Linked DNA regions of Homo sapiens. The protein of the gene in region 1 interacts with the protein of each later gene in a biochemical or structural test. Each region holds a gene or a part of one and is shown on either strand. Other genes may lie near its edges.

Evidence for each region.
Region 2: the proteins of ERBB4 (region 1) and TFAP2C form a complex in vitro, tested with the Homo sapiens proteins (one study listed by BioGRID).

Annotation. Positions count from the first base shown.
Region 1 is NC_000002.12:211,375,212-211,380,820, forward strand, and holds the end of ERBB4 (receptor tyrosine-protein kinase erbB-4 isoform JM-a/CYT-1 precursor), read right to left. Parts: 3' UTR 506-5,609; downstream 1-505. UniProt on the Homo sapiens protein: Tyrosine-protein kinase that plays an essential role as cell surface receptor for neuregulins and EGF family members and regulates development of the heart, the central nervous system and the mammary gland, gene transcription, cell proliferation, differentiation, migration and apoptosis.
Region 2 is NC_000020.11:56,624,483-56,632,307, reverse strand, and holds the start of TFAP2C (transcription factor AP-2 gamma), read right to left. Parts: upstream 3,003-7,825; 5' UTR 2,764-3,002; coding exon 2,716-2,763; intron 1,104-2,715; coding exon 618-1,103; intron 504-617; coding exon 452-503; intron 1-451. UniProt on the Homo sapiens protein: Sequence-specific DNA-binding transcription factor that interacts with cellular enhancer elements to regulate transcription of selected genes, and which plays a key role in early embryonic development.

The DNA.
Region 1 (5,609 bases):
TCACTCTCACACTGTTATGTGGGCTTGTCATAAGTCACTAGTCAGCTGATTGACTATTTAAGGTCTTATTCTCCCTCCCCCACCTCAAGGACAGTAGTAACATCTGATATTCTTTATAGCCAAGGATTGCCAGGATCCATTTTATAAACTGCAATGAGGGCAGAAAGAAAAAAAGTATATAAAAATATTAATGTCGTTTGGATGCAACCTACAAAATATTTTATATATTTTTTTATTCTCAGAGAAACAAACCAACCAGAGTTAATTAAGCATAGCATGCACAGATGAGTAAGTCTGTACACATCAATGGGCATATGCAGTGGATGGTAAAAACATATGGAACATATCACATCCCAAACACCAAAGAGTTCTGAGGAATAACTAATGAGCTGCATAAATATGGGCAAAATAAGCCCATTTTTATATCTTCACATTATTAAACCTAGAACAAATCTTCCTCTCTGCTAGTTGGCTTATCTAATAACAAATTTCTGACACAAAAGAGAACGTTTGTTTCATATTTTATTGAATTTCATTTATATTAAATTAAAAATATATTTCTGACAGATTCATGTAACAAAAAGGCAGAACAGTTTTCAAATTGTTCAGCTGGGATGATCAGTATGGAATGAGGCAAAGCAGTTCGCATTCTATAATTGCCTTGTACAGGTACAATTCTTTCCCAAGAGCCAAAAGAGGATCCTTGAGAACTAACGGAAAAGCCTAATTACATAAATGTAAAATACTGTTTCTCCCTCATTCTCAAATAACAACAGGAATGAGGGAAAGGAAGGAGGATGGGTAAAAGGTTGGAGGAGAAGAAAGAATAAGAGAAAGTATACTAAAAATATGCCTAACATTAAAAAAGTTAGTATGTGTTAGGTGCATGATCCTTCATCAATAACATGGAAAAAAATCAAAATAACATTACACCACACACAATTGGCATATCCTATTGTGTAAGCGAGTGCAGAGGTTGAACACATCACAATAGTGCTGAACACAGAATCACAAGTAATGTCAAAATGATAACTTCCAACCAAAAAAGAAACAATCACAGGCCAATTACTTATATACAAATCAACCCTAAAGACAATTATGTTCCAAATAAAGATGTCCACAAAAGAAAATCAAAGCAACATTATACTTATTTACAAATGCAACTAGCCATGTCTTTAACAAGCTATAAAAATACTATTCACATTTTCAAACATACAGTAGTATTTTTTGTTTGTTTATTTCAAAAAGGCAGCTAACTTTGAATGCAGGGATTTAAATAAAACATTGATGGCTTACCAGCAAGGTATTTTTGCACCCCAATCCTTTGAAGATACTTCACAAGAGAGAGGGCTTGTTTTCTGCTTACAAGTTAAGAAAATAAGGAAGTGAGTACAAATGTATACACCTTAAGCCTCTGCCTTTTCAGTAAAGTGACTCCCTCTCTCACCCAAACTGATGTCAGTAAATTACTTTGATGCATGTATAAGATGAATGTTTGAGAGTAGATTTAAGATGACTTTTTTTGTGCTATGAATTGTCTTCCACATTGATCTCATTTTCATTTGATCTTCTTGTAATGGTGCTCAAGAAAGAGATGAACTAGTCATACACCATGGGAAAATGCGGTTTCAGCATGCAGCCACGCAATCCCTGGTGCTCTCAACATGAGAAGGAGACACACCAGCCAGGGAGACAGGCATTCAAAGTTAGCTGCCCTCACACAGCTGCTCCGTTTAATAATCGACCCATTTAACAGCAGTACCAGTTTATGCTACATATTTCAAAGTACCTTACTTTAAAAGAACACCTTACATATCTACATTTAGAAAATAACTTTCGTAGTTGATTACTGGAGTAATCCCAAAAGGGTTCTTGGAGTGCTATGGTTGTAGTCCCCTCACTCCCCCCTCCCAGCCCCTGAGAGATCCAGAAATATACAGGAAAATGACTCTCACATTAAGGGAAAAGGACAACCCCCAATTAACTAAAAAATCTGGAAATGACATTTGAAAACCAGATTCGTGTCAATATACAGGAGGTATGATTTGCTTTCCTTCACAAAGGCTATAGGCCTGGGGGAAATATCTACGCATTGGGGATAAAAATAGCAGTAAAGGCAAAGTGGTTTGGACAAGTTAGACTATTGCCTACAGGTATGAATCTTTGTTTTCCTATATTTGTATATTTGCACAAATATAACCACTTCTCATGATATAGGGAAAGCTCACTAGAGCATGAAAAGAAAAACGTCCATAAAGAGCAAAAGTAGGTAAAGGATGGCATTCTATTAAACAACATGGATTTTCATTAACATGAACTGTCCTCATTATGTATTTGTTAGATGGATGAATGATCCAAAAAAGAATTGCAGGTGGTTATCAAAGCTGAATAGCCTTTACCTTTATGATAATAAGACTCCTCATTTGGGAGAAAAAAATTTACAGCAGCTACAAAATATTTACGATTAGGAACCAAATAAGATGAATAAAGCAAATAAGTTAATTTACTGGCAAAAATAACTTCTTGGTTATATGTACAGCTTTTATGTAAAGATTAAATCGAAGTTCTACCAAGTGTATGTGGACATATGTGAGTTTCAAGATTCATCACAGGGCTAACTCGTCTCAAATTCCTATAGGGAAGGACACAGAGAATTGATCTTCATGGGAAACCATAATTTTAATAGCTTAAATATTCTCTATGCGGTAGTTTGATAGTTCACTTAAACAGTGTCCAAATTGCTAGAATCTCTTATGAAAAAATCAGGCATTCGAGGGCAAAGATGAAGTCAGTGTTTCACAAAGTGGGGTGTAGGATCTCAGAGATCCACTATGGCTTAAGAAAGGAACAGGACAGCATCGGGGGACTACTTTGAACCAGGGTGGTAGAAAGGGAAGAGAGCAGTGCCAGTTGTGTCAATGGGCAAAAAAGGGAAGGATTCTATTTTCCTCTAAAGGTCAGAGAGAAATACATTTTTCTTTGATTCCTAACAAGGTAATCACTTACTTGCAAAGCTGACTGTCAAAGAGTATTTTCCAGAGGAAGCATGTGAATACCCCCCGTGAAATTGGGGCTTAGAGTCATTTTAGCTTGTGACTATAGAAGCATTTACTTCTGCCCAAAATGTCACCTGGCCAGGAATTAGGTGAGGCAGGGGCCTGCAAAAGTGACAGATCCTACATTTTTGGACCTCTACAAAATCAGTGAGACTTGAACCGAGTATCTGAAATTTCTATTATTTTAGAGAGACTTTTAATGAAAAGAAAAAAGCAGCTCACACTGCTAAAAGATATTTGCCCACACAAACACAAGGGCCCCTGGCCCGACACAATGCCCACAACAGCTTCTTGTTTCCAACTGCAGAGAGAACTCAGATCTCTGGGATCAGAAAAATTTTATTAATTCTACCCAGAAGTATAAAAACTGGCCCCATTGTAATATCAGTAATAATGAGGTCTCCACTGATAATGATCTTTTAAAATTATGCCTGATCTCATCTGTATAATATTTGTTCTTAAGCAAATAGCAACCAGGCGATACCAATCTGCATTTATATGTTTACATGGGGCAAGGCTGTCCTTCAAACTGATACACACCGAAGTCCATGTACACAAACAGAGGCACAGTAAGATCCTCTGCCCACAGTATATACAGTAGAAGTTAATTTATCTGTTTCTTTTTTTTTTTTTAACAACTAGAAGCTGATGTTGTAGGATCAGCTCTAGGATCCTCTGCCCACAGTATACAGTAGAAGTTAATTTATCTGGTTTTTTTAACAACTAGAAGCTGATGCACATGGATTTCTCATTTGCCCTATAACAATCATCATTCTAATAACTAAAGTCCAAAAGAATGGCAATGCAATAGTTTGAAACGCTTGGTTTAGCATTTATTTATCAGAAAAATTGTGATTCTTTGTTGTCATTTTTGGAGGCAAGAGGGCATAGTGAGAAAAGAAAGGACATATCACCAATTAACTGTATTTTGTTTGTTTGCTAGCTAAATGACACCACTCCTTTTTTTTTTTGTCTCTGCATAAGGTAATAGAACATTTACATTTTCTTTACTTCATCTTGAAGACCCTTACTTAGTCATATGTAACATGTTTGCCTATTAAATTCTGCAAGGTGGTGTTTATTTAAAAAAATAAATAAATACAATTTTCTTTACATTTAAAAAGTGATAAAGGAATAAGAGAATGAGAAAAAATTGTTCATTGTAATGCTTTAAAGCAAGTTTTCCCAAGTGGAACCATATATGCCTACTTTCAGCTAAACCCAACAAACAACAATTTTAAATGGCAAACTTATCTTTTTACTATGCAAAATCCATCCTACATTTTTATATCCTGCATTTAACTTTGTTACATTATACTTGTGGTTAGTTTTCTAGTTTGATTTATTTAATAATATTAAAATCATTTAACATCTGATAACCTAACTAAATCTACATCTTATAGCATTATCGTGGTTCTGTCCAGTTATATACATGCTTTCATGATCACCTTTTCTATTACCTTATGAACTACATATACTAGTTAAATTATCAACAATTACAGATGGATGAATAATTCCAGTTTTGAAATAAAGGTTAGAGAGCTCTAGAAAAACTTGTATTTACATCCTTCCCTGTCAGGCTTAAACAATTTTAATTTTCTTTTCATTTTTGATACTTCAAGAAGCACATTAATAGTCCTTCCAACTTCATCTAGTAGCAGAGCCTCACACAGTCCTTTTCTTGATTTTTCCTTAGCATTGTAAGTATGCACAATCTTCATGCCATGTCTTTCCTTTAGAAGGTATTAGCTCACACACTATAACACTTAAACACTATTCCTTCTCTTAAATTAGATATTCAGTCCTTCTCCCTAATCTACAAAAAAGAATCACTTGATTTTAGTTTGTGTGTTTTAATAGAAATTTGAGTTTTGCGTTGTTTTTCATGCTATTTTAAGAATGTTACTGGAGAAAGGATTCTCATCCTAAGCTGTGCTACTAATACTATGCAGAAAACCAGGAGCTGCTTGGTAGTCTAACACCTTTTGTGGTGCAGATGCTTTGTGGTTCTGGATCTATCCTAGATCAGAGGCCATCTTTCCTCACCTGTTTACCACTTTCTTTAGGCAATCATTTAACTGCAAAATTTTTCCATACCTGCCCAAAATAGGTATAATCTACAAAGTTGGGTGATTTAAAAAATATACTCCGTGTAATTTTAATACTAATTTGTCTCAGATTTACATAATTGATTCTGCAAATTTCAATTGCTACAATTGGCCTCTGGAATCTGATATCCCCCCAAGCACTTTGAAGACTTTAACTGACATTTTAAAATTCTACCCTACTGGACTAAATAAGTTATTCTCTGGAAGGAATGAAACTTTTTTTCTCCCTCTTATACATGCTGAAATATGTTTTCCCAGGGGGGACAAAAATAAAACAAAAAACACTCAAACAACTGAAGTCAATTATATACTACAGAAATCATTCAAAAGAATTATAAAGTGGTGCTATTATAAAGCATTTGGGTCATTTTGGATTATTCCTACATGCATCTCTAGGTATTACCCAACATGTAGAAGTCTTGTGTTCTTAGGAGGAAAGAGACAT
Region 2 (7,825 bases), on another chromosome or scaffold:
TCTTGCAGGTCAGAATTAAGGAGGTTTTCCATACACGTGTTTGAAATCAAAAATAAAATCACAACTTATTCAACAATTAAAATTGTTACAGAACCAACCACTCAACGAAGGTGTGCCTGTGACTTTTTTCTTGTTGTTTTTCAAGTTAAATCAGTGTTCACTCGCTCTGGAAGACTTTCTCTCACATTGTGAAACACCCACTGGAATTCATGGACATTTTTCCAAGAAAAAAAACTAGGCAGTAACAACTCCGGAGATGAAGAGACAGCTCCTAGGAGGTCGGAGGGAAATCCCTTTCTGTCACTCCTAAAATCTAGCTTCCATGAATCCCTTTCAGTCCCTTCTACCACAAATGTCCCACGCTGGCCACCAAATACCCCCAACCTTGCCAGTCAACTTCACAAGCCCAGATCGTGTGACCAGAGTTAGACGATGCCACCTTGCTATTTACCTTTGCGAATGACTGTCTGATCGTGCAGCAACAGGTGCTGGTCGTCGACATTCTGGGGGAGAGAGGACAAAATTCCCTTAAGTTCGGGGGAGCCTAGAGGAGTGCGGGGTGGGGGCAGAAGGCCGTAGGGTGAACAGGTCCGGTCAGGAGCCGCAGCGCCGCTCACCTGCACCTCGTCCATCTGGTGAGGCATGTCGTGGAGCCCCAGGTTCTCGGCCAGGCCCGCGGCATCCAGGGCGTGTGCGTGGGGCAGCAGCAGGTCGGAGCGGCGGTAGGCATCCCTGCGGGCGCTCACCGCGCCCGCCTCCAGCCCGGAGAGGTGGGGCAGTAGGCCGGCCGGGCGCCCGTGGTGCGAGGGCAGCCCCGCTCCCTCCTGGCTCTGGCGGCCGGGCCAGGCCTGCTGCTGGCTGCCTGTGGGCGCCGGCTGGTGCAGGGGGTTGATGGCGGCGGCGTACGCTTCCCCCAGATGCGAGTAGGGGTCGGCCGACTGGGAGTAGGCCAGCTGCTGGTAGGGAGGGGGAAAGTAGGGTGGCGGCTGATATTCGGCGACTCCAGTGTGGGAGAGGGGTGGCGCGGGGCTGTAGAGGTGCTGCCCGGCGGAGGAGAGGTGGGGGACCCGCGGATTCCCATTGCTGCTCCCGTCGTGGCGATCCTGGAGGGAAAAAAAAAAACAGGAGACCCCGTTAGTGCGAAACCCCGCTACTGCGAACTGGCCGGCATCGCCGGGCTACGCAGAGGGCCCCGGGGGACCAACCGCACCCCGCCCGGCGGGGCTTGCCCAGGGTCGGAAGGTACCCGGGGGCAATGCGCCCCGAGGATTTCGTTGTAAGCAAAGAGTGCGGGGAGGGAGGAGAGTCTGGTGAAAGACCTGGGGGAACGAGTTCTCAAAGCCCGGCGGCGAAGGTCTAGGCGCTGCTCCCAAGCCCGAGGCGCTTGGAGGCGCCAAGTCCGAACCCTGGGTCTTGGGCCAGAAAAGTCCGTGGCCGGAGCCCGGGGCGAAGGAGCCAGAGCCCGGGGCGAAGGAGCCGGACGCCCGGTGCAGAGCTATCTCGTGGAGCCCGCCCATGACGCAGGGACTGCTGGAGGTGGCAGCGCGGCAGGCGCGGATAGAGTGCGCGGCGCGGGAAATGCGCACCTCCCCCGCCCCCGGGACCCTCCCTTCCACGCCCTCGGGACAAAGACCTCCGAGCGGGCGGCGCTCGGAAAGCAGGGCCCGCCACCCTGCGCCGCCCTGGGAAGTGAAGAGGGAGCGCGCGCACAGGGCGGCCCTCCCTGCTGGCCGGGCCCAGCCGAGGGGAGTAATAAGTGGGGGCGCCCTGCACTGCCAAGGGCAGTGTTCTCGCACGTCGGGGCGCAGAGGGGGCATGAAGAACCCTGGAAATTGGGCAGCCTTGCCCGCGCACGTTCCCTCGCCCCTGGGCGGCCCGACTCAGTTTCTAAAGGATGCGTCCCCATCTGCCCAGGGGTCTCGGGGCGCCGGGAACCTGGAGGAACATGGCGCTGTCGCCTCCTGGCGGAAGCGCCCGGGCCTGCGGGCAGGGGCAGCCCTCCAGGGCCCGGAGGCGCAGTGAACTCCCGCGAGTCCGTAGCCCGAGCTCCGCGCTCCCGGCGCCCCTGAGCTCGCCTAGCGCTGCCTGCGTCTTCTTCCTCTTCCCGCTCGCCGCCTCCTTCTTCCCTCCCACTCTCCGAAACTCTAGCTCAACCTGTCCGACAGGCTGGAGCACTCGCGAGCTCTTACGGCCCCATCTGGCCTCGGGCACCCCCACCACCACTCCCCAGCCCCCACTTCTTTTGAAAGCCAAACTTCGGTTGTTTTCGTGCTTCCCCGAGGAGGTAGCGGGGCAGGTGACAAGCCGGCCTTGGAGGAGTGTCCGCCAAGGTGTCGCTAGCAGGTAGCCTCATCTGACCCCTTTGGACAGAGACTTCGTGCGTAAAAGCCACGTCTGAGGGTTGCAGACGGGGCACTTTTCCGAGAAAACGGGAAGCAGGGCTGTTTGCCGCTTAGGAAAGCGCCCGGTAAGCTGTGTGGGTGGGATTTGCCATTCTCTTTCCAGGCCTCGTTCCCGAGGGGAGGCTATTTAGGAAAAGGCCCTATACAGGAAAGGGGCCCCGCAGAAATGGACTAAGGGGTGTCCGGAGAAGTGGATCCCGTCCCACCGAGAGGCCAGGGCTCCTATGCCCTCGTCCCCGACCTCGGTCCAGTGGCCCCTGCCTCCCGGACTGTCCTCGGCGGGGCGGGGCTGCACCCCGGAGCCCCAGCTCACCTCGCAGTCCTCTTCGTACTTGACATTATCGGTTATTTTCCACAACATGGCGTCCGGCGTCCCCCAAAACAGTCGCCAGTTAAATCCAGGATCCCCCCAGCCCCCAAGCGGTAAATCCAAAATCGGGGTCACGGTGACCAGGCGTCTGCCGCCGCCCCCGCCGCGCGCGGGCCTTGCTGTCCGGGTCACTGGACACGCATCGGCGGCTCTGCGAGCGTAGATGCTGCCGCCGCGAGTGTCAAGACCGCTCCGCGGACGGGGAAAGCCGCGCCCGAACAGTGTGTCCTGGCGATAGCCGGGGGACCCGAGCGCCTTAATGAGAAGGAAATTATCATAACTCCTCCCCGGGGGCCGGCGCGGAGGCCCAGGCGCCGGGCGGGGCGGCCCCCAGCCAGTCCCAGCCTAGCTCCGCCCCGCACCCGGGCCTGGCGCAGCGCCGAGCCCCACGCTGTGAGGGACGAAGCGCGGAGTCAGTGGGCGGTGCCTCGTTGACAGCCGAAGACCTGCGAGGCCTGGGTCCCCCGACGCGCCTTCCTTCTGTCACCTCCACCGTAAACACACCTGAGATTGGCAGAGCTGGGGGAAGGGATCCAAATACTGAAACCCACCCCTCTTTCGCCTAAACGGCCTTCACTCGTTCCTCCAAAAGACGGATGTCACCTGGAGTTAAGAAACTGCGCATTTGGGGAGCGACTCAACAACCGGGGTCTCCTCATCTCCTAAAAACACATCCCATCCCACCTACACCCCACTGAGGCTTAAGGTCTGAGCTGGGATCATGCAGCTGGAGCCCCAGTGCGCCAGAGACGCCCAGTTCCCTCCGTGGGCACAGCGCGGTCCCGGCCCCCGGGCGGGAGGAGAGAGGAAGGGACTCCTGGGGAGTCTGCCCCAAGGGCCGCAGAGGCAGCAGACGGTCCTACCCGCCCAGGAGTTGCGGACAGCGGCGTCTCGCCGCTGTCGCCCGAAGTGGCATCTCCCGCGGCTGGCTGAGGCCAGGGGGAACCCGCGCGCACTGGACCAGCCCAGCGGCCCGGCCCTGCCCTGCCCTGCGGAACGCCGGCTCTGCAGCTGCCTCTGGCGGGCCGGTCACTCAGAAGCCTCTACTCGCCCTGGGAAAGAAGCGCCGGGCAGGAATAAAACCCGAGCGCCACGGGTAAGGTGAGGGTGAGGAGGTGCAGGAAGTTGGGAGAGAGCCTGCAGAGAGCTCTCGACTGGAGAGGTAGACACCCAGGTCCCACATGTTTAGACAGAAAACGAAACTTCCTTCCACACAAACGCTGCTTCCCTCTCCCCTTCGGTACTTGCCACCCAAACTTGAAAGCAAAGTGCAATACTAATTTTTAAAATTTAAACTAACGAAATTCTTTGGCCCAGTTATTATGCAGCAATTGACTTTCATTGTAAGGGGAACATCGCTAATTCTCGAGGGCGTATTTGTTGGGACGCCCCAACTGGCTCCCTGGGCTGGATTTAAACATTCTGTGGGGATTAGAGGACAAGACTATTTCTATTTGATACTGAATACGATTTTGCAATAATCAATGCCTATCAGTACGGTGTCCGCACCTGCAGTAGACATGACTCTCCCATCCACGGAATGGCGGCATCCACTGCCTCGCTGTTCCTTCTCGGGTTCGTTTGAACTTTAGCATTTATTTAGACCCAGGTGGGCCTAAAAGAAAATAATAATAATAGGCGTCCTCCAAGGGAAACTTTCCCCCGGCCTTAGACAGCAGCCAAATCCCAGGTGATTTTCCGACCGGACGCGGGAACAAAATCTGGAAGTTGAAACCACTGAGACTTTTCGGCCAAGCATATCTGCAGGGCTTTGCACTAAGGAGAACAGTGCATAAAAAGACACACAGGACCCTGACACTTCGGTCCCAAAACAGGCTTCTGGGGGTAAAATAAGTTACCGCAGAAGCAGCGCTCCTGGTATTAGCGGCGGGGGAGGGGGACACCTGCCAGAAGCAGAAATTAGACCCAGGCCCGCAGGCACTCCAGAGCACAGGTCCAGGAAGATGGGTCCTAGACTCGCCAGAGGTGCGGCGCCTCTTTCGGGCGCCTGGGACTCCCTGACGGGTGCCGCTGGGCTGTCCGACATTCTGGGCCTTCTAGCCCTCGGTTTTATTCTCTGACCCGGCCTGAGGTGCAGCTTGAACAAGCTGTCTTGTCTGTGCTGGCAAGTTTACCTCCTGCACGCTGGGGCCCGGAATGGGCAAGAAGGTGCTCATCCCCCATCCCAGGCCCTGGCTCTCCTTTCCCACAGCAACACTAGCCAAAGCTGCCCGGAGGAACCGATATGCCTCCCCGCCTGGGAGCGTCTACGCAGGAGGCGAAGGGAGCCGATGGGCACTGAGGGCTCGCGCAGCACCGTGCCGTGGGCCCAAAGGACCCAGAGGATCCGGAACCGCTTGGCAAAGGCCATTCATTCCCAAGGAGCTTCCCTGGACCCCGGCGCTGCCCTCTTTCCAATGGGTAAGCGTTCGAACTGGAGCGCAACCTCCGCGCCCTCTGTACGGAAGGCAGCTAGAACAAATCCTCTGTCTTCTCGGCACGGGAGACCCTTCCCCAATACGCACATTCTCGGCTTCTGGGCCGGCACCCAGGCACGCGCGCGCCCTTGTGAGGAAGCCTCAACCCTTCCTTGACTTCAACTTTTCTGCTCAGCAGAGCCGGGAACCGAAGGCTCCAGCATCCAAGACAGCCTCCCTCCAACGTCCCCGCCCCTTGCCCACGTGAAGACGCGGACTGCGTGGCCGCGCTCAAGACAGCCGGCACCGGCAGAAGGGGACCCCTCTGGAACCCCGGAGGCCTCGCAGCCGCCTGGAGAAGAGGATGGAAGGTTGTCGGGGGTTCCCCTCTACCGCCCCCTAGGGAGCCTAAACTCACTTACTCCCTGGAAGCCCTGGACCCACGCCCCTATGAAACCGCAAACCAGGCCTCTGCAACAGCGGGAGCGCCCCAACAGCGCGCCACTTCCAAAGAGGCGCGAGGTGGTGCCTTTGGAAACAGGGCTCCCGGCCCCAGGCCTGAGTCATCCGCCACCCCTGCCCCCACCCCAGACGGAAGAAGGCGGCCAGGCGGGTAGAGCAAGATTCGGGCAGATCTGCGACTCCTCTTCCCGCCCCAGGGAGGGGACTCCCGAGCAGAAGATGGAGGCCCCCGAGCGCTTTCGCAGACTCCGCGCCACGCGCCGGACGTTTGTCCCGCCTCTCGGGACAACGTGAGCGCCGGTAGGGACCTCAGTAAGTGGCAGACCCGCCAGGATCAAGCAAGGTGGAAAGGCCGGGGCCTGCGGCAAACCCAGGAGGAGGGGGCATTCACGCCCGCCACCCTCCCTTCGCGGCACTGGCACCCACTGGACCGACACTGGCGTCAAAGGGCACCCTGAAGTATCTATGTCCAGTAAGGGCATGCCCTGGGGCACCACAGACATCAAGTCACAGCCACTCCAAAATAATTACAAAAATGATTATCGTAAATAACAGATTGCTTTAATAGGGCGCGAAGCGGCCGCCGCATACAGACGCCTCTGGTCTCAGTCCCACCAGATTCAGTTCACTGCTCGCTTCTTTGCGCTCCGCGTCAGGCCGCATGCTCTTCGTTTAGAACCTTTTGAGCCTTAACTCTTCCTCTCAAACAACTCCTTTTTTCAAACAGGCAAAGTGAGGCGAGGAGCTGAGGGGCTCACAGGTTCCCAAGCTTCCGAGGAGGGCCCGGGTCCACGTCAGTCCCGGCCCGCCAAACGAGACTTCGTGGGCACAGTCTCTAACCTGACAACCACCTGTCCCATTTCACAGCAGGCAAAAGTGAATTTTTAGTCGCCCAACTACCTGAAAGCCACAAAGGTGCCTAGGGTTGAAGGCCACTTTCCTAGCGGTTCTACTAGGGAGCCCGTTAGAGACATGCCTGACTCTCCCCCTGCCCTGCCCCGGGGGGGACCCCCGCCCGCCGGAGGCCTCACACGCTTGGCCGTGGGATGGTAGACTCCTGTCACCTCTCCACTAACATCCCGGAGCCCATCCGTACGCACCCTAACCGCTCGGAGCGCAGGCCCGAGGACTAAGGCGGTAGCCTCGTGTCCCCTGAGGCCTTCTCCGCTCCGTGTTCTGGGTCGCCATACACTTCCCGGCTAAGCCCGGCGCCTTTAACTCAGAACTTGGTCGCCTCCAGGCGTGGAGCAGGCCACTGTTGCCAGACGCTGCGCGGACCCGTCTTCCTGCGCCAGTACTGGGCGACAGGCAGCCCGGGCAGCACCCAGGAGCCACCCTGCACGGCCCCAGGCGCCCGTCCCACCCAGCGCCACCCCTCGCCCTTCGCAGCGAGTCCTCCCGCAGCCTCTCCTCTCTGCTAGCCCCCGGGGTCGCACCTGCCCTCCACACAGACACCTCTTTTCTCACCCGTAGGAACTGGAAGCTCATGGTGCCAGCTCTCCAACCCTCTGTGAGTTGAGGAGTTTAAGAGTAGGAGAGACGTAGAAAAAGAGTTCCCCGAGGGCCGAGTCGTGTGCGGTAAACACACGCTTCCAGCGTTTATTTAATTAACGGGAGGGGGAGGGGAAGGGGGGAAATTCACAGCCAAAACGAGCTATCGCGATTGGAAGACTGGCAGGAAAGGTCCTGGTTACTCCTCCCCTGCCCTCCTCCCCTTGGAAACTATAAACTCTGCATTTGAAAAGGGTATACCCTAGGGTTTTAAATTATCTTTACATATGTATATGACAAGCGGTACGTAGGACTTCTTCAGTCAGAAATTATTTTAAATGTAGCCTACCTCTTACTGGCAAGGGATTTTTTTTTTTAGTTGGTTAGTTTCTAAGACCAAAAGTATTAACATTTCTGGGAATTCTCAGCCTTCATGTCACATCACAGGTTTCCGGGTTCAGCTGAAATTGAACCAGGGGTAGTGAATTCTTGGGGTAGGGGAAGAAAGGGAGTGGGGTTTGGGGTCTTCCTTAAGTGCCAGAGAGATTGGTTTGCACATTACATGCTAATTTGCCTTAAAGAAAGGGGCAAAGTACATGGAAGGAAGGAAGGAAGAAAGGAAGGTAGGCAGGCAAGCAAAAACCAAGAGCCCAGTAAAATAGAATAAGAAGACTGTAAACACA